5 separate regions of the Homo sapiens genome follow, and all the other regions are linked to region 5. The links come from fine-mapping of genetic effects on plasma protein levels. A gene starts in region 5. Each other region holds a variant in brackets. All regions are shown on one strand. Distances are between the middles of the regions.

Region 1 (5,111 bases), 85 kb after region 5:
AGGCTCTCTAAGGAAGGCAGTCACGATTGTGATGTCTAAAGAGAATTTCAAAGACTGGATTCATCTCTGAATGTTTAAGGGAAGACATCGATCTATCAGTAGTTCAATTATTCATGAGAGGGAAATTTGCAATCTCACAAGACAGCACATATTTAAAGAATGATTATAGAAAATATATGTGATCTGATGAGAGTCTCCTCCAAGGAGAGAAAAACTAATGGTGATTGTCAACTTTCATGAATATTTTAACAAATAAATAAACTCAATGTGATAAAGTCTGCTTTATAACGTATTCTACTGCTTCCTCTCCAGTGTAATTTCATGAATAACTACAGAAATCACACACTTAACTCTCATCTCAATATATAATTTAGCTATTATTGAATCTTCTTGCACTAAGAGAACATTTAAATTATGCTTTTAGTCTTCTACTTTTGGCCTTTTTTTTTTATTACCTTTCTCTAGTTTTTTAAAATCAAAGTTTACTAAAATATTTAAAAGAGAAATTAGAGCAACTAAGTCTTTTTAAATTTTTTATTAGTATGGTTAAATAATAGTTGTACATATTTATAAGGTACATGTGATACTTTGATATAAGTATACAATATGTAATGATTAAATAAGGATAATAGAGTTATCCATCATCTCAAGTATTTATCATTTCTTTGTATTTGGAGCATTCCAATTCAACTGGCTTAATTTAAAATGTACAATAAATTATTGTTAATTTTGGTCACTCTTTTTTGCTACTGAACACCCGCTCTTATTCCTTCTATCTTACTATATTTTTGTACCCATTAACCATCCCCTCTTTATTGTTCTTTCTAATGTTTAATAGGAAAGTGGTTATTTATCTTGATCTACTATATGGAGGAGAGATTTTAAAAATAACTTTAGATGCTGTATTTGGAAGGAAACTAACATATTTAAATGAAGACCACAATTAAATGTTTTTAAATATAATGCATGTTTCTTTAATATAAATGAATTATATATAATGTAATGTATATTTCCTTTGGTAGATATTAATTTGGAAAAATTTTTAGGTATGAGATATAATTACCTAGAGGCCTAGAAACTTGGGTAAGTAGTTTATCTTTAGTTCTATAATTATTTTTTTCCATTATATTTTGGGTACTAAATAAATGTCTCTTTGATTACAGATCTAAGCCTGATATCCTAGTAGGGAATAACATATGTATATTAGGACTAGGCCACGGTTTATCTTTTTTTCTGTTTACTTTTTACTTCATTTGAGAAATCGTTTCTCCTAATCACAAGTAAAATATGAACATACTTTAAGTCTGGAAATCAGCAATTCAAAAACTAAAGTGTACAAATACATAAATCCATGAGTTTAAAGAAAGACAGTAGAAAGACAGAGTTACATAATAAATTTTGTTATGTGTAGGCACCAGCAAGTTTTTTCTTATAAATTAAGACCTAAGTTAGACACAAATAACTAAGACAATGGTGACTTGAAATGCTAGAAACATTGCGGGGTAACATTGCCAAAAACAAGTAAGCAAACAAGAAAAAGCCCCAGAGATCAATGTGAGTCAAAAACGTAGTGTAAGTAGTATGTTGTCACTGCATAGTTACTTCATGAGTCAATTACAGATATAGATAGATTTTTAATAGTATAAAACAAAAGTTTTTTGAATTATACAGTGTAGCTTATTAATTATCCATTGTAAAAGTTACAATAGCAACTATTTAGGGCATTTGCCTCATTCCACATGTTGTATGGTAATGTTATTGCAGCCCAAAGCACTGATATTTCTCTATTATTCCTTTGTTTTAAATTTCTATTCTTTTTTATTTAAAATGGGCCACAAATTATAGTTTCTGTGTTATACTAGCCAGTGTACAGTTGGGACTCATTACTGAGTATAGAATTCTACAACACTGTAAGACAGATAAGATCAAGAGTTCTCAACAAGAGTTGGACACATAAGATAAAAGTAAAGCCTTTATAACAAACCAAAATTCACTGAATTGCACACTTAAAATAGATCAGTTTTGGGGTGTGCAAATTATATATCAATAAAGTTACTTTTTTTTCTTTTGTTTTGTTTTAAGATAGAACCAGGAGAGGATTTCACTTCCAGCCATTATTGATTTGTGACTCGTAATTCTTAGGTCTTCTGTGAAATACTGTGGGGTCAATTACTCATGCCTCATTTTTATATTTTGAATTGCTCCTTTTTTCCAGATACATTCCCAACTTTAAAAATGCCCATTGAGCTTACATTCTTAAAAACAAACAGGAAACAAACAAAAATCTTTCTCTATCCCTACTTCCTTCTTTTCTGACTTCTAAGTTTTAGACTTAAGAAAGGAATAGTCTCTGTATTATTTCAACATCTTTAACACCTCCCTTTACTATTGGGTTGAGAGTGACTTTGCAGAATTCACCAGTTACTCTTGAATTGCCAGCTATAATGATTTCTGTACAATTCTCATTTTTCTAGAACTCTATCAAGTAGGCGACACACTTAAGAAACTCTTTTCATTAAAGCAGTTTTTGTTTTTGGCTTCAGTGACCTATTTTTAACATGTTATATATTTTCTCTGGCCACACTTTTATACTGTTATTTTGTTTTTTGTTTATCTTGTATATCCCACCTCTCCCAGTCTTAAATTCTTCCCACTTATGTCCCCTGATTCTCTTGGCATTAACTGTCACACCTCTATAAAAATGGCATCCCAAACCCTAACTCTAGCCTTGACCTCTCTCTTTACTTTGGGTACATATATTCAACTTCCTTTTTGATCAATATAACATTTCTCACTAAACCTTAAAGCGAAAATCATCTGTCTTTCTCCAGACTCTATCTCCAATATCAAGTAATAGCATATCCATACATCTAGTCAACCATGCTAGGATAGTCAGGGTATCTAATTACTAT[G/GT]TTTTTTTTTTTTAATTCTCTATATCCAATCAGTTACCAAGTCTTATCAATTCTATCTTGAAATTTCTTTTATATATGAAACCTTTCTGTGTGTATATAATAATAAGCTCTTCCTAGGACTTAAAGGAAGGGAAAGGCTAATGTTACATATGCTGTCTGGGAACACAGCATTTCCTGAATACCTTACTCTTTGGTAACACCTAGGCGACCCTCCTGGCACAGAGTTTAGCCTAATGTAAAAGAACAAGTCTTCAGGGTCAGCACAGGATGAGTACTATCACATATGGCATATTGCAGTGAATTAGAAAAAGATTCCTTCTGTAATATACATCCTTCTTTTTAAAAAAGTCACAATGTAAATTTTTTAAGAAAAATATATTTTACTGCCATCTATGGGAAAAAGTCTGGAATGAATATACAAATCTGCATTGTCTATGCTCTGATATGTCGTGTTCTAAGGGGTGCATAAACTGCATGAGCACACATGGTAGCTCTGCGTAATGCTGTGCTTTTCAAACCCCGGTCCAACTGTTTAGTAGCTTAACCTTGGTAATATACTCAACAACTTTGAGCTTCAGATTCATCACCTATGGCATGATTAATAACAGTCTCTTTCAGTCAGTCTTTGGGAAGGGTAAATATGGAAATATGTATAAGTAATAAGCAACTTCAAATTTACCTGTAGATGTTTCCAGTCTACTGCCTCAAAAGCACATCATGACAAGATACCAGATTATGGAAGTCCTTACGCTAATGTAAAGGGGCAATGAAAACACTGTTGGTTTTAACATTTCACTACAAATCATTAAACATGTCTTCAGGAATATTTATTTGAGGTCATTTCAAAAGAACCAGAGGAACAGTCATCCTATTTTTTTAATAACTCAGGATGTAGCCTGGAATCTAATTGTACCTGAATGTTGGACAAAACTATGTGAAGGCTTATTACCAAACTATAAAAAAGTATCTTGGCTTCACCATTTCCATGTTATCATCATATTTTATTGTTCTCCTATTTCAGAGGTCAGCAAAGCACAGGCCATGGACTATATCCAACCCCTGTACTGTTTTTGTAAATAAAGTTTTATTGGAACATAGCCACATGCATTCATTTATATACAGTCTAGGCTGCTTTCCTGATACAAGGGCAGAATTGGGTAGTTGTCACAGAGACCATATGGTCTGGAAAGAACAAAGTATTTATCTGGCCTTTATGCAAAATATTTATGAACCCCTGATTTTTTATCCATTTTAAAATACCAATTCACTTGACTTTCCATTTTGCTCAATTCTACAAATAGACAAAAAATATTATATTAATCTGGAGCATATTGAGTCTCATTTTGCCTTTCAAAGTATCTTTTATGAATGAACATAAACCTAATTATAGCATGCTGGCTTAAACACGAACAATCCCTTAGGTTTTATCTTAAAAAACAAAACAAAACTAACCAAAAAAAACCTAAGACAAAGCAACTTGTTCATTTTTGCCAGATTTTTATTGGAACTACATAGAAAATATTTCCTATAAGAAATTGGCTCTCAACGACTGATTGTTTTGTCATTAAAATATAATAGTGGGGAAAAGTCCATTTAGTAGTTTTAGAAGAGCCATGTTATTTGATGATACAGTGACTGAGTTAGTTGCCTGTTTGAAACTATTTTTGGTTGATAGTCAGGAAATTCCATGAGTGCCTACTTCATTCATTAAATCAAGTAGTTGAAACCTTTCCTTTTCATATGGAAAAATGACTAAAAATTAGGCAGCATATTGTTATGGAAAAATATGAACAGTCAGGTAGATGTAGTCTTACTCAAATACTAGCTGTATAATTTTGGGATAGACTTTAGTTTCCACATTTCTGAAAGCAAAATAAATAATCTTTATTTTTTTAAGGATTTTTGATAATTATGTTAAAATCTTAGTAAATAACAGTTTCTTAATTAATAGTATGGTAAAGATTGAGTTCATTAAGTAAAATATGTCAAATTTACTCAGAATATTCTTCAAAAAGTCTATTTCTCAAATTTCCCCGTCTGTTTGTGTGAATTTATTTAGCAATTTGTTTTGTGTGCTACTTCTCATTCTTAAAAACAAGTTAAGAACTTAACCTTACTCACCTTTTTCCACTTACCTTTTAAAATAATTCTACCAAGGACACTTATAATTTAAAAGCTAGTTGTCTGGTATCATTTGGA
Region 2 (5,111 bases), 58 kb before region 5:
GGATGTGAGGAGCCTCACTCCCCAGACAGCCTAGTGCCTGCTTAAGGGGCTTGGGAACAAAATGCCCATGGTGGCCAGGGTGGCACATGTTTACAGGCTTCCCCTCACCAAGGCTAATCTGGCTAACAGTATTGTTAAATGTTTCACTTGCCAAAACAGAGACTAATGCTGCACTATGCCAGCATATCCCACAGGTGCCAGAAAACATCTGGGGGCAAGATGGCTACTTTGACCCACATCTGTCAGATTCATTTTTTCTCCCTGAAACAGACACACATTCTGAATTTGAATTTGCCTTTTTTGTCTGTTCTCTGCTAGCATCAACATCTATGAACTTAGTGAACGCTTCATTCACAATACCAGGGTTCCACACAATGTTATTTCTAACCATGGGGCTTGTTTTCTATGGCAGGATAAATGGAACAATGTGCTGAAACCTGAGGAATTTTCCAACTGTGCTATGTCTCCCCTTACAGAACTCTCCTTATAGAATAATGAAAATGAAACAGCATATTGAAGACTCAGTTACAGCACTTTCTGGAAGATAGCACCTTGTGAGGTTAACAGGGTGTTTTAGAAAATGCATTCTATGATCTTAAGCAGTGAGTCATTTCCTAGCTCATCAAATTTAAGTTGGCCTGGATTGTAAAGAGTGCAATTATTTTATGTAAAACTAAGAAAGAAAAATATACTATCAAGTAAACTATAACTTTCAATGATTGTAAGAAGCAGGCTGATGTCAGAGACACAAAAACCTTAGAAAAAGACAAAAGAGATGTGATGTAAAACAAAAGAAATATTGTAAATTTTACACTTTTTTTCTGTAGCCATAATTCAAAAGTCAAGGAACCAAGGAGTGGAAGTGAAAGTGATGTTTTAACCTACCATACCAATGTCACCTTCACAAAATCCATGCCATTGTGGACTCTTCTGTCATTGTTTTATTATTATTATTATTATTATTATTATTATTTAAACCTATTCTGACAATTTAATTATGTGGACTTGTCAAAATGTTATTTCAAGATTGTTCAAAAAAAGGGACCTAAGCAGACCAATTTAAAGATTTATCTCTTGCTAGTGACATTTATAGAAGACAGAAATGTTAGTTAATTAAGAAAAGATTTTCTGATTAGAGATGATTAGGCTTCTGACAGTCAGCTGACAGTTAGAGGGTGGGTGGGTGACTAGCTTTCCAGAACAGATCTCAGGCTTATTACAGTTCATGAGGCAATGATACAATGGTGCTTAGGCTATTTCATTAGGTATGCCAAATTTTCTTGGAAGGAGGTTGTGAAATACATTCCAGACCAGGTTTGGGGCAATATTTTCCTTAAGTTTCCAAAGGGAAAAATGCTTCCATCAAGGACATAACAACAGTTGCATTTTAGGCTCTTCTTGAAACAAGCAAAACAAAACGAAATAAAATATCAACTAGTATGGGAGTAAAATAACTGTTCCAGTGATTAATCGAATTACCAAAGAAAAATCGGGCTACTATTTCACAATGGAGACAAAAAAATACATCTGGAGCCAAGTCATCTAAATTGTCTCCAAATAGTGGCCAGTCTAGGGATAAAAAATAATGGAAAATTATATTGGCCAAATGCTCATTCAGGCAAGACCAGCAAGGAGCCAGACATCTCAGAATAAAGATTTGGATCAACGTGCAGACAAAACAAACAAACCATCAAGCAAAACAAACAAAACTAATCAGCTAAGGCGTTGGGCAAAGAATGTGATGTAGGTCATAGCTATACATAGTTCTATCTGTTTATGTGATGTATATATCTCTACCTACTAGTTAACTTTTTTCTTCTCTTCCCTTCCTTTTCTTTTTTTATATAGGATTTGTGTGTGTGTGTGTATGTGTGTGTGTGTGTGTGTGTGTGTGTGTAAGACAGGGTCTTGCTCTATCATCCTGGCTGGAGTGCAGTGGTACAACTATAGCTCATAGCATCCTCAAACTCCTGGGCTCAAGTGATCCTCCTGCCTTAGACTCCTGAGTAGCTGGAACTGGGATTACAGGCACACACCACCACACCCAGCTAATTTTTAATTTTTTTTTGTAGAGATGGAGTCTCACTTTACTGCTTAGGCTTGTCTCAT[A/G]GAATGTATCATCGATGTTAAATTTCTAATTTAATTTATAGCTTTATACATAAGAGAACAATCTAAGCTGCTGTAGAAGAGAGTCTAAAATCCAGTAGCTTAAGGTAAAGGTTTATTTCTCTTTCATATAATAGTTGGGCTTATAGTCTAGGGCTTGATGGTGGCTTGAGCCACTATCAGAGATCCAAATTCTTCTACTGCTTGCTCTCCCATTCCTAGAATGCTTTCCCTGCCTGAAATGTCAAAGATAGTTGAACCTCACATGCATATTTCAGTGTGTAGGAAAGAGGAAAGGAAAAAGGACAATAATGTTGAAGGTGGCATTTCAGCTGAACTAAAAGAAGATGAGTATCACAAAAAGATCATTAGAGTGACTGATGAGACTTTGGTTCTCTCCTTTTGGAGAGATGGCAAATGCATTATATCTGTATGGTAATGGTTATTTTAGATTGCCATTGTTGGAAGTTTAAGTATATGGAGAAATGTATGGATAAACGTTGCATACCCAGAAAATTGAACTTGGTGGATATAATGAAACGACCCTCATATTCACTCCAACTTTCTCCTCATGTGACTTTCTATACAGCAAAGATTGCAAAAATTAAAACTACATGTTTTAGATTCCTTTGAAGATGAGATTGAAGATGAGAATTATGTACTGTATGTTACATAGAACTGCCTGAGGCATGGAGAGCAGACGTCTCCCTGTGCTTTGGGTGTTATTTTTGGCAGGCACCATTGTATACTTGTTGGTTTCACTGAAACAGCATTCCAACCACTGACTTCTAGACTGGAAGTTCATATATGTTTTCTGTAAAGGGCTATAGAGCATATATACCAGTTTCATGGAACAAGAGGCCACATACAAGCTCTGTCCCAATTCCTCAACTCTGCCGTGCAGTGAAAGCAGCAACAGGCAGTACGTAAACAGAGGAGTGTGGTCATGTTTGCTGCCTGGATTTGGTCTGGGGAACATTGATTTCCAGCATCTTTTCTGGAGCATAGTCTTGGAAAGGCAGATTCAAGCAGCATTGGTGGCCCTACTCAGCAATGCATTCTCTAGTCATTGAGAGTGACTACAGAATGGGTGTCAGGAGGGAGTTGTGGAGATGCTGGCTTATTTTCTGGATCACAGTCAGAAAGGCTTCTGTGTTTCCCTCTCTTCCTAACTGTGGTAAGTTCCCTGGTGAGCCAGTTCTATTGTATTGATCTTGGAATCATTCCTGGAGGAAGCTTAGGATAAAGTCTGCCTTTCCACTCCTTTAATGATTTTTGTAAGCACTTTGTTTCCTACATTTAAACCAATGTCGACATAAAATATGTCTATGGTGGATTCTGTTTCTTGTAAATAAAAACTGTCTGATCCTAGCTTACCTCTACATATCATTAAGAGTCCATAACTCTCAGCAGGCAACATGCCAGGAAAGAGAGGCAAAGGCTAAGTGGATGTGAGGATATCTGGTTGCCTAAGGAAATGCTTTTTTCCCTTCCATAGAAAGCCAGAATAACACCATGCACAGTGCATTTTGGTCTGAAATCTTGGCAAAGAAGGCTTAAGCTCTGACTTGAATTCAACAAAATCACACTGGATTATGATTAGAAATCACACATTGAGTACATCAAGCTTTCCTTCCATTTGGATAGAAAAGCTACCAGCACCCACATGGATAGTAAATGGTACAAGAGATATTCTAGCTTGTCTTTTGGCAAATGCTAGGCTTGATTTTGTGGCTCTCCATTCCAAATTACTAGAGAAAATAGTCTATAAATATGTTTAAAATGCTGATTAATGAGGGAATATTTACAGTTCTGAAGATTCCTTTCTATTAGAAACAGATAAAACAGAAATTATTAGAAGATGTCTGACTGTCTTCTAATAATCATCTGACTGAAGAAGATAGGAAACAATCATAGAAAGCCAGGAGTAAGAAGTGAAGATTAGGATGCAAAGACAGATGACAGAAGTAGAAATAGGTATGGCTAGACTTACCAAACCCAATCACAGAGCAAAATCAGTGTTGAAGAAGAAGTGAAGGTAATAAACTTGCAGAAGATCAAATGAAGATTTGATACATGACCATGAGGTCTAGGAAGGTAAGTATCAAATCTTTAGGGCAGGCTGCCAGCCTGGATGTCTTCTTCCAACATATGGCTTCACTTGTCACTCTCTTAATAGTGCCTTTTAATAACAGAATTTCTTAATTTAACAAGTATAATTTATTAATCGTTCCTTTTTTGGTTGGTGCTTTTTGTTCTGTTTAGAAATCTTTGCATACCTCATTTCACAAAAGTATTTACCCATGTTACCTTCTAAAGCATTGTATGTATATTTCACAATTAGGTCCATGAATTAATTATTGTATTAGATGTAAAATGGGGATCAAAATTTGTTTTTTCATATGGATATCTACTGATACAGCACCAATTACTTAAAAAAAATCATTTACCTACTCTCAGTGGCACTTTTGTCACATATTAGATTGGTTGGATATGTATGTGTCTACTCCCGGATTTTCTATTCCATTTAATTGGTCTATTTACTTCCTGGTACAACACTATATTGTTGTAATTATTGTAGCTTTATAGTAAATTGTGATATCTGGAATTGTAAGTCCTCCACCTACATTTTTCAAGATTTAAAAAAAATTTCTTTAGTATTTCCGTATACATTTTAGAATTAGCTTTTCAATTTCCATATAGACACCTACAGAAACCTGCTGAGAATTTAATTGCAATAGCAATACATTTATAAATTTATTTAGAAAGAACTGACATTATAATTACTATGAAGAGGTTCATAGCTCCTTATAGGACTTCTATAGGCAGCTATGGGTGAACAGAGCTTTTCAAAGGTTTCTAGGATGTCCTCCAGAACTCACCTTAGGAATAAAGTTTGCATGATGTCACACAATGTGACTCTCTTCTAAGTTTGTCTTGTCATTTCCATATTCTAAAGTAAGACAAAGACCCTTGAAGTTGCCTTTGACAAATCTGATGTCAGT
Region 3 (5,111 bases), 45 kb after region 5:
ACATTTTCTCATTAGGAAAATAGAAAAAATGATTTTACTTAGCTTATACATTTAAGGATTAATGCAAATAATGACTTAATCTGTTACCCGGAATTTCGTAGATGACAAATAACTATCACATATTCTATTATCATTACAATTTATCACTAAGGGAAAAGTCAAGTATGCAAATTAATATAACATAATAAGCATGCTAAGAAAAATACAGATGAAATTGCCCATTGTATTTACAAATGGAGAACCAACATCTGGGTCAGGAAACCTTGAAGGAAGAGAAATTGATTTTGGAGGTGTTTTCTCACAAGAAGTATAATTTATCAACTAAGTTGAGAAGATTTATTTCAGTAAAGTTAGAGCAAAGTCATTCATCAGGAAAAGCATGATGTGCAACAGAGGAACAGTAAAACAATCATTTTACTAGGCATACGATTTTATGATAGTGTAAAAGAAGATTATACTGCAAAGAAGGGTTGGATAACTATTGTGGGTTGACTATTTAAATCATCATTGTTGAATGTTTCAAAGGATATTTTGTTCATTCCTTAAAGACCAGAATATTTCAATACCAAAGAGTTCCACAGAACCAAAACAGGCTTTCTCTCCCCATAAACTCTCAGTAGACATATATTCAATAATTAAAGCTATGTATACTTTCTTAGATTAAAATGACTAGCTTTTATGGAAGTCAATTTAGTACTCTTATTTAGAAGTGACAAGAAACTTCAAACAATGTAAGAAGATTCCTCAAAATACACATTTGGTACACACAAAGAAAGAAACGTAACTAGAATATTTTAAATATTATTAAAAGCCTATATTTGTTTGGCTAAGGCAATGGGCGTCGTTCCCACGGAAAAATCACCTATAGAGTTTATCAAATTAAACATCTCTTGGGCTGAGTCTTAAAAATTCTGATTTCATTTGTTTAGAGTGAAGCTCAAAGCATCAGTAATTTTCAAAGATATAAGGGAATCCTAACTGTGAGAAAGGAGACCAAAGATACTTCCTCTTTCTCTCCTCTGAAATCATGTAAACAAGAATAACAAGAAAAATGTAAACCATGTTTTTGACAAAAATAGGGATATCTATAATCTTGAATCACAATTTAAGATGAAGAGCTGTCAAATGCAATAAATATCAAATCAGCGTGCAGGAAGATACTGACAGAGGGCATATGCAGTTACATATCTCAGACACAGCCAGCCAAATGCAAACATTTTCCAGAACATTGGGGGATGCTAAAGAGGAAAATCTACAGTCCTCGGTTTGAGTCAATAGAAACAACATGTTTGAGCTGGCTGTAGAAACTCTCCTGTCCACCATTTGTTACTAAAGAGAGGTGGGGGAGGTAGGTCTCATTGAGGAAATCACATTGCTTGCCATCTTTGCTGGAAGAGACATGTGGAATAAGCAGAGGAGAAAACATCTATTGTGATTACCCTGCAGCTGTCTCAGAAAGATGGGGCAAGACATGCTGGCCTCATACAAACATCCAATCCCCAGGGTAAGCTGAAGGAAAAGGCAGCACTCTGTGAGCCAGGGCCAGTTTCTCTTAAATAGACCACTATTCGGACACACACAGACACACATACAGAATCAATCAATCAAACATGAGCACTTGGAAGTGTAAAAGGTATATAAATTATAATGAAGATCTGGCAGTCATTAATACATAGGCACAAGTAAAATGGACAGAAATATAGTAATACAATATTCTAATTTATATAGGATATTCTAATTTATCTCTCAGACCACGGCAAACAAATAGACCAAAAGTAATGCATAGATCTTAATAATATAAGTATAAGATATGGTTTAAGAAGCTCTTGCAATATTCACATGAGAAAAAAAATAATAGATTAGAAAGAAATCGCTAACATATTTCCCAAAGGAAAAGAATTAGCTTCACTGATCACAGTGAAATAAGTGGCTCTCACAAGTGGCTTTTGGGTTAAAGATGAAGTTCAGAGCAAAAGAGCAGATTACTTGGAAAGTAAATATAATAAAGCATTATATATGAAGACCTATGGTATACAATTTAGTCACAGTAACTAGAGACAAGTTCCTAGCCACAACCACTTGCATTGATAAAGAATGAAAATAAATAATTTCGGTAACTAACTCACACATAATAAAATAAGTTAAACAAATGAAAATATTTAATAATTTAAAGCAGAAAGTAATGTCTTAGAGAACAGACAAAACAGAGCTAATAAATCAACCCAATAACTGGGTCTTAAACAAACAAACAAAGGAAAAACAATGGCTAACCTAATCAGGACGCTGATGGTGAAAGCACAAATACATTAAGAATTGGAAATGGGAAAATATCTCAAAGGCAGAAGACATTAAAAGAATTGCATAAGGTTAGTTTTTTCAACATTATAAAAATAAATTTTAAATCCTACACGAAATCAGTATTTTTCTAGGAAAATAGAAATGAGTGAAACTGATCCTTGAGAACACAGACCAATTGCTAAAGAAAAAAATTCAAAAACTTTATCATGGAGATATTCCCCCTTCCAAATCAGTATAAATCCAGATTGATTGGTGGATTTTATATATAAATTTTTTATCTTCAAATAGTTTGAAGCACTACAAGAAACAGATGCTTGTAGCACTTCAAGCTATTTGAAAAGATAGGAAAATAAATATTTA[C/T]ACTTGTATTAGTCAGGGTTCTCTAGAGGGACAGAACTAATAGGATATATATGTGTGTGTGTGTGTGTGTGTATATACACATATACATGGGAGTGTGTGTGTGTGTGTGTATATATGTGTGTGTGTATATATATATATATATATATATGAGTTTATTAAGTATTAATTTACATGATAGCAAGGTCCCACAGTAGGCTGTCTGCAAGCTGAGGAGCAAGGAGAGCCAGTCTGAGTCCCAAAACTGAAGAACCTGGAGTCCGATGTTCAAGGACAGGAAGCATTCAGCATGGGAGAAAGACGTAGGCTGGGAGGCTAGGCCAGTCTCTCCTTTCACTTTTTTCTGCCTGCTTTATATTCGCCGGCAGCTGAGTAGATTGCACCCACCAGATTAAGGGTGGGTTTGCCTTCCCCAGTCCACTGACTCAAATGTTAATCTACTTTGGCAGCAACCTCACAGACACACCCAGGATTAATACTTTGTATCTTTCAATCCAATCAAGTTGACACTCAGTATTAACCATCACACAATTATATTTTCTAATCTAGCATTACATTACTACCAAAATCTGACAAATTAAAAAGATATATAGACAATAGAACTTGAAACAAAGATCAAAATAAAAGACTAGCAACTAGAATGAAACATCACAAATAAAGAGTAATATACCACCACTAAGTGTGGCTTACTCTAGGAACTCTAATATGGTTCTGTATTGAGGCATCATATTAAGAGATCATAAGAGAAAAATCAAATATTTAAATACATAGAGACTGAAATTATTTGCATAATTCAGCATATATTCTGTATTTTTAGAAACTTTTAATAAGATAGTAATAGGCTTGTGTATTCTTAATAAATAATCTATAAATCCCAAAGTGATTTTGAAGAACAAGTGAAGGGGAACTGCTGTATCACATACCAAATTTAGCATAATTTCATAATAATATGATATTTGTTCAGAGTGTACAATGTTGAACAAAACATAGAGCTCGGAAACTTATATTGATGTCATTATATGGATACACCAACTAGTGCGGGAAAAGAAAACTATTCCACAAATGGCACTGGGAAAATTGCTGTTTTATTTTGGGAGATGGGGCAGAAATTTTTACTTCATACTAATAAAATCAAGTCCATTAGAATTTTGAAGGGTAAAAAAAATTTAATCTTTAGAAAAACAATTTATGAAAATATGTGGGTGACTTTTGTGTTGTGAAGCATTTCTTAAACAAATTACAGAAAGCAAAAGGGAAAGATTAAAAATGTAAAGCTTCATTTTGACAAAGGACATCATTAAATACAGTTTGAAGTCAAGCCATAAACTAGCGAAAGTAATATACAAGACCTACAATTGAAAAGGAACCACAAACAAGATATAAAAATTTTATAACTCAGTAACTGAGAGATAAATGACCCGTTAATAAAGGGTCAAATATTGTGAACAGGCATATCAGAGAAGAGAAAATCTCAATAGTCAATAAATACATGAAATGAGGCTCCATGGCACTAACAGTCAAAGAAATGCAAAATAAAACTACAGAGATTTAATGTTTTGTGTCTACCAAATTTGCAAAAATTAAAAAGCATAGCAGTGGAGAGTTGTACCTGTAGTCGATGGGATTTTGAACTAGTAAAAGCACTCTGGAGCTCAATCTGGCAATATTTAGTACCATAGAAGATTCATAGGTTCACAGAAGATTCATAGATTCAACCTAGCAACTTCACTTCTAAAAATATATGCTGGAGAAGAACAGTGGTTCTTAACCTTGGGTGCACATGACAGTCATACCAGTACCCAGGCTGCACTACAAACCAGTTAAATCAGAAATACCAGAGACATTTTTCTGGCATCAGTATGTTATAAAGCTCCTCAGGGGATTCTAGTGTGCAGTGGAGCTTAAGAACCCATGTAGGAGACTCTCTCACAAATACCTAAGAAAAATGAGAAGAAATCTATGAGCATATTAATTTTAATCTTGTTTGTAGTAATGAAAAACTGCATTTCAAATGAGTAAAAAACTTGGATAGTCAATAAGGATAAATCTCAAAATCTCAGCATTTAGTTTAAAAAGCTAGTTGCAGAATGAAACATATTGTACCATTTATATAAGATTTGAAGGCATGCAAAACAATCCTCTAAAATGTTCTTGATCACATAATGTGCAGCGTTTTGAAATGTGTAAGAATGATTAAAAAACAATTTCAGGATATTTCTAGACCTCAGGCATAAGGATGTCAGATTTAGCAAATAAAAATACATTCAAATTGTATATCATATGAGACATACTTATACTAAATATTTATTCATTGTTTATCTGAAATTCAAACTTAACAGGGAGTCTTGCATTTTATATGGCAATCCCACTTGGGAGGGGATCTGGAAAGGTAAACAGAGGCTTCAGCCATATCTGTAATGTTTTATTTCTTTAAGAAATAATTGAAACAAGTATGG
Region 4 (5,111 bases), 91 kb after region 5:
AAAATATTCGAGAAGAAAATTCTGACAATGATCAATAATTTATTTAGTTAACAACACTGTGGGCAGCTACAATATGGTTTCAGCTACAATATGGCAGCTACAGTATTTCAATTGATTCCCATGCTACCTATCAAAATAAAATAAAATTTGAAAGTCTTTCTTATATTTGCATGTCTGATATTTTCATAGAGAGTGCCATTGTGTGAGAATAAAATGTCAAATTCTCTATTCTCGGGAGGCTGACATGGAGGGATCACTTGAGGACAGGAGTTTGAGGCCAGCCTGGGCAACACAGTGAGATTCCATCTAAGAAAAAAAAAAAAAAAAACACCAATCCTCATTTCAAGGTTCATCTCAAAAATCCATGAATCAAAAGAGGAGGCCTTTAAGGAGAGGTTAAGGCATTCTATTCAAGCCTCTTTTTTTTTTTCAGAGGTTCAGGGTTTGTTGAGTAGGAAGGTATGATGTGGCTCCTGGAATGATGCTCATACCAAAGGGTAGAATTTTCATTTTTAAAGAATTTTGTGCAAAAATGATGGAAATCTTTTTTTTTTTTAATTTCTAAGGGTGATATGACTCATTAATGCATCAGGCTTTCTTTTACACTAGACAGCAATCACATACTCACTACTAAGGTTACCTCTGTTAGCAAGAGGTATCTCATCTATAAGCAGCTAATAATGGGAACCAAATAGATGAAATAAATCAGATGTGAAACAAATATAAGACCCTCGAAATGTAAGTGACCAGCAAAGAGAATAGTGCATCTTGGGACATAAGCTATGACTATATTAGACCTTCAAAGCCATATTTGCACAGATAGGTAAAGTGCTAGGAACAGGTGAATGCACAACCGTACCTGTGGGACAAAAGGCCTCAGATGAGATAAAGAGTGAAGTCAGAAGAAGAGAGATTTTATATAAGCCACCAGAAGACACAATAGCACTGCACTCTCACACTTGGGTCTCTGTCTCTTTGGACATCTGTCTTGACCATTCCAATAGAAAATTTAAATCTTGGTTCAGGCTGGGCCATTGATCCTGGTCCCAGTCCTCTATTGAGTATGTGTCAGAGATTCCTGGGTGAACTTTCCTCTCTTTTCCTAAGGGTTCCATGGGAGACAAATATTTCTTCTGCATGTATTAGGAACAAACTTAAATGTGGTACAAATTTTGTTATTTTATTATCTTGTATGGGCTAATGGGAGGGTTAGTCATTGTTAAATTTCTGCCTCCCATTAAATTTCATCATTAATCAATTTTTTTAAACCAATATCTGGGTTGAAATGAGTCACCAAGGTGAAGAACTGGAACATAAAAACCCAAAAGCAACATGATCAAGTGAATATAGCAGAATAAAAGGCCCTAAATTTAATTGTTTCTGTGTGTACACTGTGTCTTCTCAATTGTTCTCTATTATAGTCAGAATGGATCCTTATTGATTTATTTAACGCATGTTTATATTTTGGTTTCTGCATCTGATCTCATATTTTCTCAGGAGAATATAATGCTTTTCCTTTAGAATACAATGTTAATTATCAAGGTAACTGAGATTTGGAAATTTAATGGGCTCTTTCTGTTCTCTTCCTACTATTAATTTTTTATTAGTCATCTTGAGAGAATAAATATTTTTAGAATACCATCTGAATATAATTTTGTCTTGTCACATGAGAAATTGTTAATTTTTGAAGTTTAATTTTGTTACATAATAGTAATTTGAGTGAAACCATCCCCTATTACCTATCTATCAATATGCACACATATTTTTTAAAAGTTCCAATAATAGTGTTGTACATCATAAAGTGGGACAAATTCAGCAGTGATATTAAAGTATTATAGTTTTATTTGAAGTATTAATTTCTAATAGAAGTTGATAATGCTGAGTAAGATGGTGTTTTGGATATGAACCATTAACAGGCTTTGAAAAAATAAAAAAAAGGTCAAACCCTTTTAGCTTAAATGTATTTACTGATTTTATAAATGTAATTTATGAATATGCCAAAACCTTATATAATAGTCAAAACAACAACTTAAAACTTCTTAGGGATTAAAATGCAACTGATCTTCTATAGAACAAATTGAAAATTTTTGCTAAAAGTAAGAACATTTTAATCTTCTAGTTAACTAACTATAATTTCATAATTA[C/T]TGATTTGTAGATATCCACTTTGGATCATTTCTAGTGTAGTTACTAGATGAGGTCTGTCTAACACTGAAATTTGCTGGAGGGACAATTGGAATGATGCATATTTGAGGAAAATTTAGGAAAATTGGGTTACCCAAGTAGATGGAGGTGTATGGACTTATTTTGTTGATAAGAGAAAGTGATTTTTCCAGCTTCATAACTGATCCCCTGATTCCAGTATTCTCTACCTGAAAAATAATGGGCTGCATTTTATAATATCATAGTTGAGTGAAAGAATCCACAATCTATATGGGGTAGCCAAATAAAAAAAATTTAAAATGACGAATTGTCTAGTTTTTCCAAGGTATAAAATGATGACTTAATCCTAACAGAAGCAATAGAGGAAGGGTGTGCATGCTGTTGCCAGAGACATAAAGGAAATAAATATGACAGTATTTATGATAGATTAGATGAAAGGAATAAAGAAAAGAGGAGAGAAATTGGTTTTGGGGTTTCTTCTATAGCATAAGGGAAATTTTCAAATGAATGTAAGTAAGAGTATAAACTGTTTTGTTAGAGAACAATATGAGTTTGGTCTCTATTTTGCTTTTAAAGTACCAGTGGGAGCTCAGCTTCATTTATTCTATAGGACATAGAAAGTCGAGTGAAGAATAGAGTCAAAGATTGAGTCCTAGCTCCATTAAATATATTTATTAAAGATTTTAGAGTGGGTGATTTCTCTGAAAGAATTAGTATAACAATAGAAGAACATAAAGCTGGCATTTTAAACATAATTATCAGATGAACAGTTTTGAATAAAATATAGCTGTGTGAGATCAAAAAATATATGTGAGAAGATGCAAGCTGAAAGCCAGTCTTGCCTCCTATAACTGACTCAAAAATCTCAAAAGATTTTGTGAGTTTTGAATTTGTTTTTTGTTAGTTTGCTTGACCTTAAAATGTTGACTTCTACAAAGTGAATAAAGTAGATTAAAGGCTGATCATCAGACTCCCTTGATAATGCAAATTACATAGAACACAACTCTAGTAAACATCAATTTCAATATGTTATTGACAATGTGACTTCTCTTACCTTAAGCATTTTCTTTCATATGGTATTATCACCATTCCAGTAACAATGTTTCAGGTAAAACATGATTTAAAACAACTTGTATTTTAGAATCACAACACTCCTTTACTCGTTGTGTGAAACACGTAAATCAGGTAATAAAAAACCAAATAGATGAATAAAGAAGGGAAACTCTTCTTATGCTAGAAATTCATTTTGAGAGATGTCATTCATTAATGCTGAGGTAAATATTATAAAAATGAAAGACACTTTTTCTTAACATTAGTAAATAAAATATAGATGGAAATTATATGTGTAACATAGTTACAAATTTCTTACCAATTAATTTCTTTATACTGACCATCTTCACTTGTAGATTAAATTTGTCAATTTTATGCTAAATTTTCAGCTAACAGTAAAGAAAAATAGATATTCTCTTCAAGATTCCCACAGTGTAGTTAAAAATGTCAGCTATGTAAACAAATTATTACAGCATAGTGTAATCCCCTGTTACAGAAGCCCAAAGGGTGCTATTACTCATTTTGACTGGGTGGTTCAGGACTAGGGAAAATATGAATCTTTATCAAACTTCTAAAAGAAAATATAATTTCTGAATTTAGACCTGCATTTGTCTGGAGATGAGTCTTCATATGGCGCTATCAATATATTTTTAGAAAGTGGGGATTTAAAATGTGAAACTTGCACCTGTGGTCTGCTACTTACTTTTCTCACACAGCAGTTCCCCCAATAGTAGTACTTTAGTTAAATGCATTAAGAAATTGAGTGGAAAAGCTTTGGTAATTGTTTTATTTAAGGTAATGGAACTTATATACAGGCAATGCAATGAGTCACTTCAGTTTTTCAAGATAAATTGAGATAGTTTTAAAGATTATATCGAGGGTTCTCTTTCTGGCAGGTTATAAATGAAAAACTCTAAAATGTGACTGTAAGAAACTTGTTTTTAAATGTTTTGCTGAGCGGGCTAGAAAAGAAAGTATTCCAAGAGGATAAAGATGAAGTGAAAGCAGGGACCCTGAGAGGCAAGCAAGTGCCAAGCTTGGAATGTAAGATAAAGCCTGGTTTGCCCAAGTTGGAGACTGATAGAAAAGCTCCCCAGAGAGCAGGATCCCAAAGGGCAATACTGTAAGAACAGGTTCAACAGGGTCGTGTTCTATATGGGAAATAAACCTATCACTGGGAATATACATCAAAGAAATGTACTTACCCACACCTTCCCACTGATTGGATTGGCACAAATCTGCCCTTAGAATTCAGAAATATAAGGTAGCTTTCACTCAGGTTTGGGGGCAGAATTCACCTGCGTGGTCCAACAAACCTCAACTGATACTTTTGTGTGGTTACAGATTCATAGTCATGGGGTGGATGCAAAAGGAATCCTTCGTAGTGTGAACCTAAATTCAAGGCATTTCCTAGATACAGTTCTAAGGAAATGAGTAAATCATCTGAAAATTATAAAATGTAAAAAATAAAATAGACTTAAAGCTAACAAAAGCATGACAGGAGATCTAGACTTACAAAGATTTCAGATATTGGAAGTATCAGACACAGAAAAAAACTATTTAGTATTATATTAATTTTCTTTTGCTGTCTGTATTGTTCCATTTTTGCATCACTATGAAGAAACACCTACAGATGGGGTAATTTATAAAGAAAAGAGGTTTAATTGGCCCATGGTTCTGTAGGCTGTACAGGAAGCATGGTGCCAGCATCTCCTCAGTTTCTGGTGAGGCCTCAGGGAGCTTTCACTCATAGTGGAAGACGAAGTGGGAGCAGGCACGTCACGTGGCAAGGAAGGGGGTGAGAGAGAAGGGGGAGGTACTGTCTCACCTGTCTGTGTGAAGAGACCACCAAACAGGCTTTGTGTGAGCAACAAGGCTGTTTATTTCACCTGGGTGCGGGC
Region 5 (5,111 bases):
AGAGGGAAATTGTATCTGAAAGTGATTTGGAAAATCTAAAATGTTCTGCAGCAGCAGATACCTTTGACATATTCATTTGTATTGTGGGAACATATGTACAGGTTTTTCTCTTTGAGATAATAAGCAATAACCTGAAAATGCTCTGTTTTACTTGAAAATGTGTGAGATGCCTGATCCAGAGAGAAATTATCTTAATACTGTTCCAGAGTTGTGTTTGCATGTACACACAAAGCTGCTAATTAGATCACAGTAAATGCACAAAGTAACATTGTCTGCTTGAAGAATAAAGAATGTGTTCCATGAGAGCTTGCCTATTTTATTCACCATCACATTTATAATAGTAATATTTGTTGAAGGAATGAATGAGTGAAGCAATGAAAGAACGCAGATAGCAGAGATGTCTTTAGTTTTCTTTTCATTACCAATTTCAATTCTTGTGTTGTCTTCAATATTTAGGTATTTTCTTTGATACTTTTTCTTCTCCTCTGATTACCTCTAGAGGAGAGTATGTTGAAGCTCATTTTGACTCAAAATAATTTATGCTTAGGAATCAAAAGATGTTCGTGTTGCAAACACACATTCCTTAGAAATATTACTATTGTAATTGCTTCCTGAGATCATCTTTAATGTGTCCAATACATTATTCTGCTTTAGTTCTGTAGCACCTAACACAGGGTATGGCATTGAAAAAGTACTCAGTAATTCATGAATGATTTGGCCAATCCAATGGAATAACTGGTGTGAGTACCTGGGACAGAGGTGCATGACTAATAGGAGTATTGTGTAAGAAATGACACAGGGGTTCTGAAATTTTGCCACGGCATATTTAGTCATTTCCATTCAGTGTTAAGATGGTTGTCACCACACAAATAATATCTATTTGTTCACTGTAAATTTTCTCCAGGGTCCCTTCCCACCTTCAAATGCATTATTTTATTTTATTTTATTATTTTATTTTATTTTATTTTATTTTATTTTATTTTATTTTATTTTATTTTATTTTATTTTATTTTATTTTTTGAGGCGGAGTCTCGCTCTGTCGCCCAGGCTGGAGTGCGGTGGCGCAATCTCCGCTCACTGCAAACTCCGCCTCCTGGGTTCACGCCATTCTCCTGCCTCAGCTTTCTGAGTAGCTGGGACTGCAGGCGCCCAACACCATGCCCGGCTAATTTTTTGTATTTTTTGTATTTTTTTTTTTTTTTTTTTTTTTGAGTAGAGACGAGGTTTCACCGTGTTAGCCAGGATGGTCTCGATCTCCTGACCTTGTGATCCGCCTGCCTCGCCTGCCAAAGTGCTGGGATTACAGGCATGAGCCACCTCGCCCGGCCCCCACCTTCAAATGCATTAATCGGATTCCTTCAGTATTATGAAGAAAACATTATGAAGAGCCTTACCTGATGATAGTAATAACAACCGTAACCACTAAGTAGAGTCTATATTTATTAATAGCAATGTCATCTTCTCTAACAGTTGTCCAGTGTCCCAAGCCTGTCATAAGCTCTTTGAAGCTCTGTGAGAATGAGAGTTGTGTCTTATGCTCAGCACTTAAGATGGCTACTTAATTCAGATAGAAGAAGAATGTGGCTATTTGCAGGCAGAAGGCAACTTGATTCCTCACATGGTACTATATACTAAGACACCCTACACTCCCAGTTTTACACGTGGTAGTTCTAGCACGTTCCTTCATTTAAGGAGTCTCTTGAATTCCAAAATTTCCAGATTCCACCTGAATAAATGGCAGAGATGGCAACTGGACACAAAGTTATTTTACCCTGTTCCCTTCACATAAAAGGCAGGCTTGGGATCACTTAGGTTTGGGGGCATAAACATCCTCTCAGTGTCTGAGTACTAAAGAAATGATAAACTACTATCAATAGAAAAGTAACAGATCACTTAATTATCAATCAGTCTAATGGTGATTATTTTAAGACTTTTGCCACAAACTGAACTGCCCCAAAGCAAATCTCTCATGCAGTTTGGCCTTAATTTCTTTTACCCTTTTTTTTTTTTTGAGAGGTTATTATGCAGTGCTTTCCCGTTTAAAACACTGTTTCTACCAGGGAATATTAGGGGGTCTTCTGCATTACAGACTAAGCAATTCCGTCTTTTCTCAAGAAAAACTGCCATGTTACATCTGGACAAAAATGGAAACTTTAAAAAAAAACCTCACATCGTTTTATTTTCCTTTCTGTGTGTGTATTTTTTCCCACATAAGTATCTTATTATTTCCTAATCGAAGCTCATTCTTCTCTATGAGGCGCTGGCTTGGTATTTTCGCCTGACAAATCTCCCGGAGCAGATGGTCCCTTCAGGGAAGCTTCAGGAAAGTGCTGGGTGTCTAGTTATGCCTGGACCCTCCCTCCCTCTTGGGGCCCCAAATGACAAGTCATCAAACCAGTTTCTCTCCAGCAAGGGTCCTTGATCCGGTAGCAGCAGGTTTGGGTTTCAGGCACTGCAGAGACCCTTTGCAGTTGGGTTTAGCAGCTACCCAAGTCTGCAGCCTGCGCTGGTCCTGGGGGTGAGAGTGATATCCCTGTTGTCCAATCAGAGAAGCGGGTTTCCCTGTGGTCCCCGCCCCACTTTCCCTGCTGCCCCAATAACCGCCCTAAAAGGCCGGGCTTCTGCTGTCAAGTAGCCAGGGTGGGCTCCGCCGAGGCGAGGAGGGGCGCCGGTGGGGAGATGCGCTCCCAGGTGTTTGCAGCGGAAGTGGGAAACCTGTAGGGTATGGTCCAGCTGTGCCGCACCGAGGCGAGCAGGAGCAGGGAACAGGTAGGAAGCTGGACTTTTCCTTCTTTGCAGATAAAATAAAGAATGCGCATTTCCATGCTGTTGCTTCCCTTCCCCCAGCCCCGCCCAGCCCTCGTCACCCCCAAATCTCCTGTGGTCCCTGCAGCTCTCGCCGTGCGGCGCGGGAAGGACTGGGGCGGAGGTGGCTGGGGTGCGGGGAAGCAGGGGTGCGGGATGCCGGAGCCCTGGGGTGCCGGGCAAGGCAGGACGGCAGTGCCCTAGAAGAGGGCTCCGAGCTCGGGGTCTGTGTCTCGTCAACTTTCCTTTCGGAGGCTGCCGCCGCCAGCGCCGGGAACTCGCCCCAGGGATGCCATATCGCCTCGGCAGGGGAGGGGTGGGGAAGCAGAGAGGTCGGCAGCCCGGGGCCTGCAGGTCTTTTTCTCCCGACGCCGGCCCGCACCTGCTCATCTTTCCCATCCCACCTGGGCGCCTGGCTAGCGCATCCCGGAAAACCTGGGAGCGGTTGCGGAGAGGGGAGGAAGCGACTTGTTTGTCCCCTGACCCCTCTGTTAAGATCTAGCTCCCTTCAGGAGATGGGGGTGGGGAAGAATCCCTGCAACTCGAAGGGCACGTTCCGATTAATTACGTCTCCGTTGAGAAGGCACCGGCCCTTCTCCACGATCTGCGGCAGGTGGGAGGGAGAGACCGCGGAGCCACGGCCCCTTCCCTCCTAGCCTGGCGCTGTCTACGGGAACCACCTTCACACCTAGTTTCTGAAAGGTGGATTTGGCTTCAGGGATTTCCAGGGAGTCAAGTGATTGTGCCCGGATGGGCTCCGAGCGGCTGCGAGGCTGCCTCCCTAGGTGACCGCATCTGGGTAGTAGGTGTTGGCCCAGTGCCGGTTCCTGCAGGAGTCAGATTGCTGGGAGCAGTAGGCAGAAGAATTGCAGAGAGATCCGACGCTGCATCACCCTCTGGGACTGATGACACCCTGCTTTGAAAATTCCTGAAAAATTGGGATGATGGGAAAGAGGGAAAGCGGATAGCTGCGACCTTTCCTTATTTATTTATTTATTTTCATGCCAAACCGGGCATGGGTATTCGTACGTGTGCTTGTGTGTGCACATCTCCAAGGTGGAGCTATATATAGCTCCTGCATACCCAGCCCGGCTTCCCTGCTGCTGAGCCGGCTGCCTTGGCCTTCTCAAGCAATCTGGAAGCACTGAGTGGGCGGGGCAAAAGGGAATCCAATTCTCCATTGGGGGAAAAGCCGGAGAAGAAGCATTCAGACTGCTGAAACCCTGCGTGAAATAATGTTTTTGTAACTCACGTAAAGATCAATATTTCATATTTCATGTTTTCAATATGTCATATTTCATGTTTTCAATATTTCAGTATTTTGCAAACATTCTTAGAGTGCCAATATAATCTTCATCCATTTCGCCGCATTTTTCGGTTTCTAAGTGTACATATGAACCTTACCAGCCCGAAGTGTAACGCAAATCAAATTAATACATGCCGTATCTGGGATATTTTATTAGACTCGGCATAATGGTTTGGTTATTTGGTAGTAAATTTATTTCAGTGGTAACTTATGGCTAACAGCATTTGGGGATCTGGGAATGGATCCACCCACTTTCCAGGACTAAGGAACTGCTAGAACCCTTGCGGGGGTAGATGTGAGGTATTTCTTTGTACAGATTTTACATGTGGACCTGATATTTAAATTTGTACTGCTTTTTCATATCACATCTATTTGTACTATGTGAACTTTCTTTTATAGATTGATGTATGTGCATTTATCTTTGCCATTCCCTGAAATTACTTATTCCTGATGACAACCTTTCCATTTTCACAGATGAAGAAACTAAGATTCAGAAGACACAAGTGATTGGTTGAAAGTCTTCTGAAAACTTTAATATTCCAACAACCTGCCGTGTAATTATACTGCATAGCAGTTTCCCCTCAAATAGAATACTTTTTAGCTTCCCAGGATTTTTGGTCCTGGCAACAAAATGTGGTTAATGTTGATACCAGGAACAATATAAACCAAGTTTATTCGGTTCTAGTCTGACATGTATCCCTACAAAATTTAATTCTGTGTTTTAAGAACAAAATTCTAACTTGCCAAGTCATTTTGAAGATAAATTATTTAATCTACCAAGTTACCATCATAGGCAGTGCGAGCTGGCTTTTAATTTTGCTCTGCAACTTCCTGATGATCTGATTTGGAGCAAGATAATTAAACTCTGAGAATCTGTTTTCTTGTCTTCAAAAGGAATTTTATAGCATTGAAATTTCAGGTTGCTATGAGGGCCATAAAAAGCATGCATGTTTCTATCATGGGGATGGGCGCATAGTGGGTCATTAATAAACAGGGCTAC

Direction of the effects. Alleles are on the strand shown, and positions count from the first base shown. The strength of an association depends on the size of the effect and on how common the allele is.
In carriers of allele G in region 1, the plasma level of the protein whose gene starts at base 2,616 in region 5 tends to be lower than with GT alone (moderate association).
For the plasma level of the protein whose gene starts at base 2,616 in region 5, A is the low allele of the variant in region 2 and G is the other (weak association).
With allele T in place of C in region 3, the plasma level of the protein whose gene starts at base 2,616 in region 5 is lower (strong association).
For the plasma level of the protein whose gene starts at base 2,616 in region 5, allele T in region 4 goes with a higher level than allele C (moderate association).

What was found. PIP is the chance, under the fine-mapping model, that this variant and not a neighbour inherited with it causes the effect. The UK Biobank Pharma Proteomics Project read protein levels with antibody pairs (Olink). The fine-mapping took linkage between variants from a reference panel, not from the people measured, so its PIPs are less certain.
Region 1: its variant is fine-mapped to the plasma level of the CNTN1 protein (UK Biobank, PIP above 0.99).
Region 2: its variant is fine-mapped to the plasma level of the CNTN1 protein (UK Biobank, PIP above 0.99).
Region 3: its variant is fine-mapped to the plasma level of the CNTN1 protein (UK Biobank, PIP 0.95).
Region 4: its variant is fine-mapped to the plasma level of the CNTN1 protein (UK Biobank, PIP above 0.99).

The regions. Positions count from the first base shown.
Region 1 is chr12:40,774,327-40,779,437 of GRCh38, forward strand. All of the region lies in intron 1 of CNTN1 (contactin 1), which reads left to right. Among named protein-coding and RNA genes, the nearest start is that of CNTN1, 84 kb to the left of the region's middle. The variant G/GT (reference allele first, on the strand shown) is at 2,913.
Region 2 is chr12:40,631,818-40,636,928 of GRCh38, forward strand. No RefSeq gene overlaps it. Among named protein-coding and RNA genes, the nearest start is that of CNTN1, 58 kb to the right of the region's middle. The variant A/G (reference allele first, on the strand shown) is at 2,110.
Region 3 is chr12:40,734,577-40,739,687 of GRCh38, forward strand. All of the region lies in intron 1 of CNTN1 (contactin 1), which reads left to right. Among named protein-coding and RNA genes, the nearest start is that of CNTN1, 45 kb to the left of the region's middle. The variant C/T (reference allele first, on the strand shown) is at 2,659.
Region 4 is chr12:40,780,376-40,785,486 of GRCh38, forward strand. All of the region lies in intron 1 of CNTN1 (contactin 1), which reads left to right. Among named protein-coding and RNA genes, the nearest start is that of CNTN1, 90 kb to the left of the region's middle. The variant C/T (reference allele first, on the strand shown) is at 2,145.
Region 5 is chr12:40,689,824-40,694,934 of GRCh38, forward strand. CNTN1 (contactin 1) reads left to right here and starts at 2,616. Exons shown (of 24, transcript NM_001843.4): 1 at 2,616-2,769.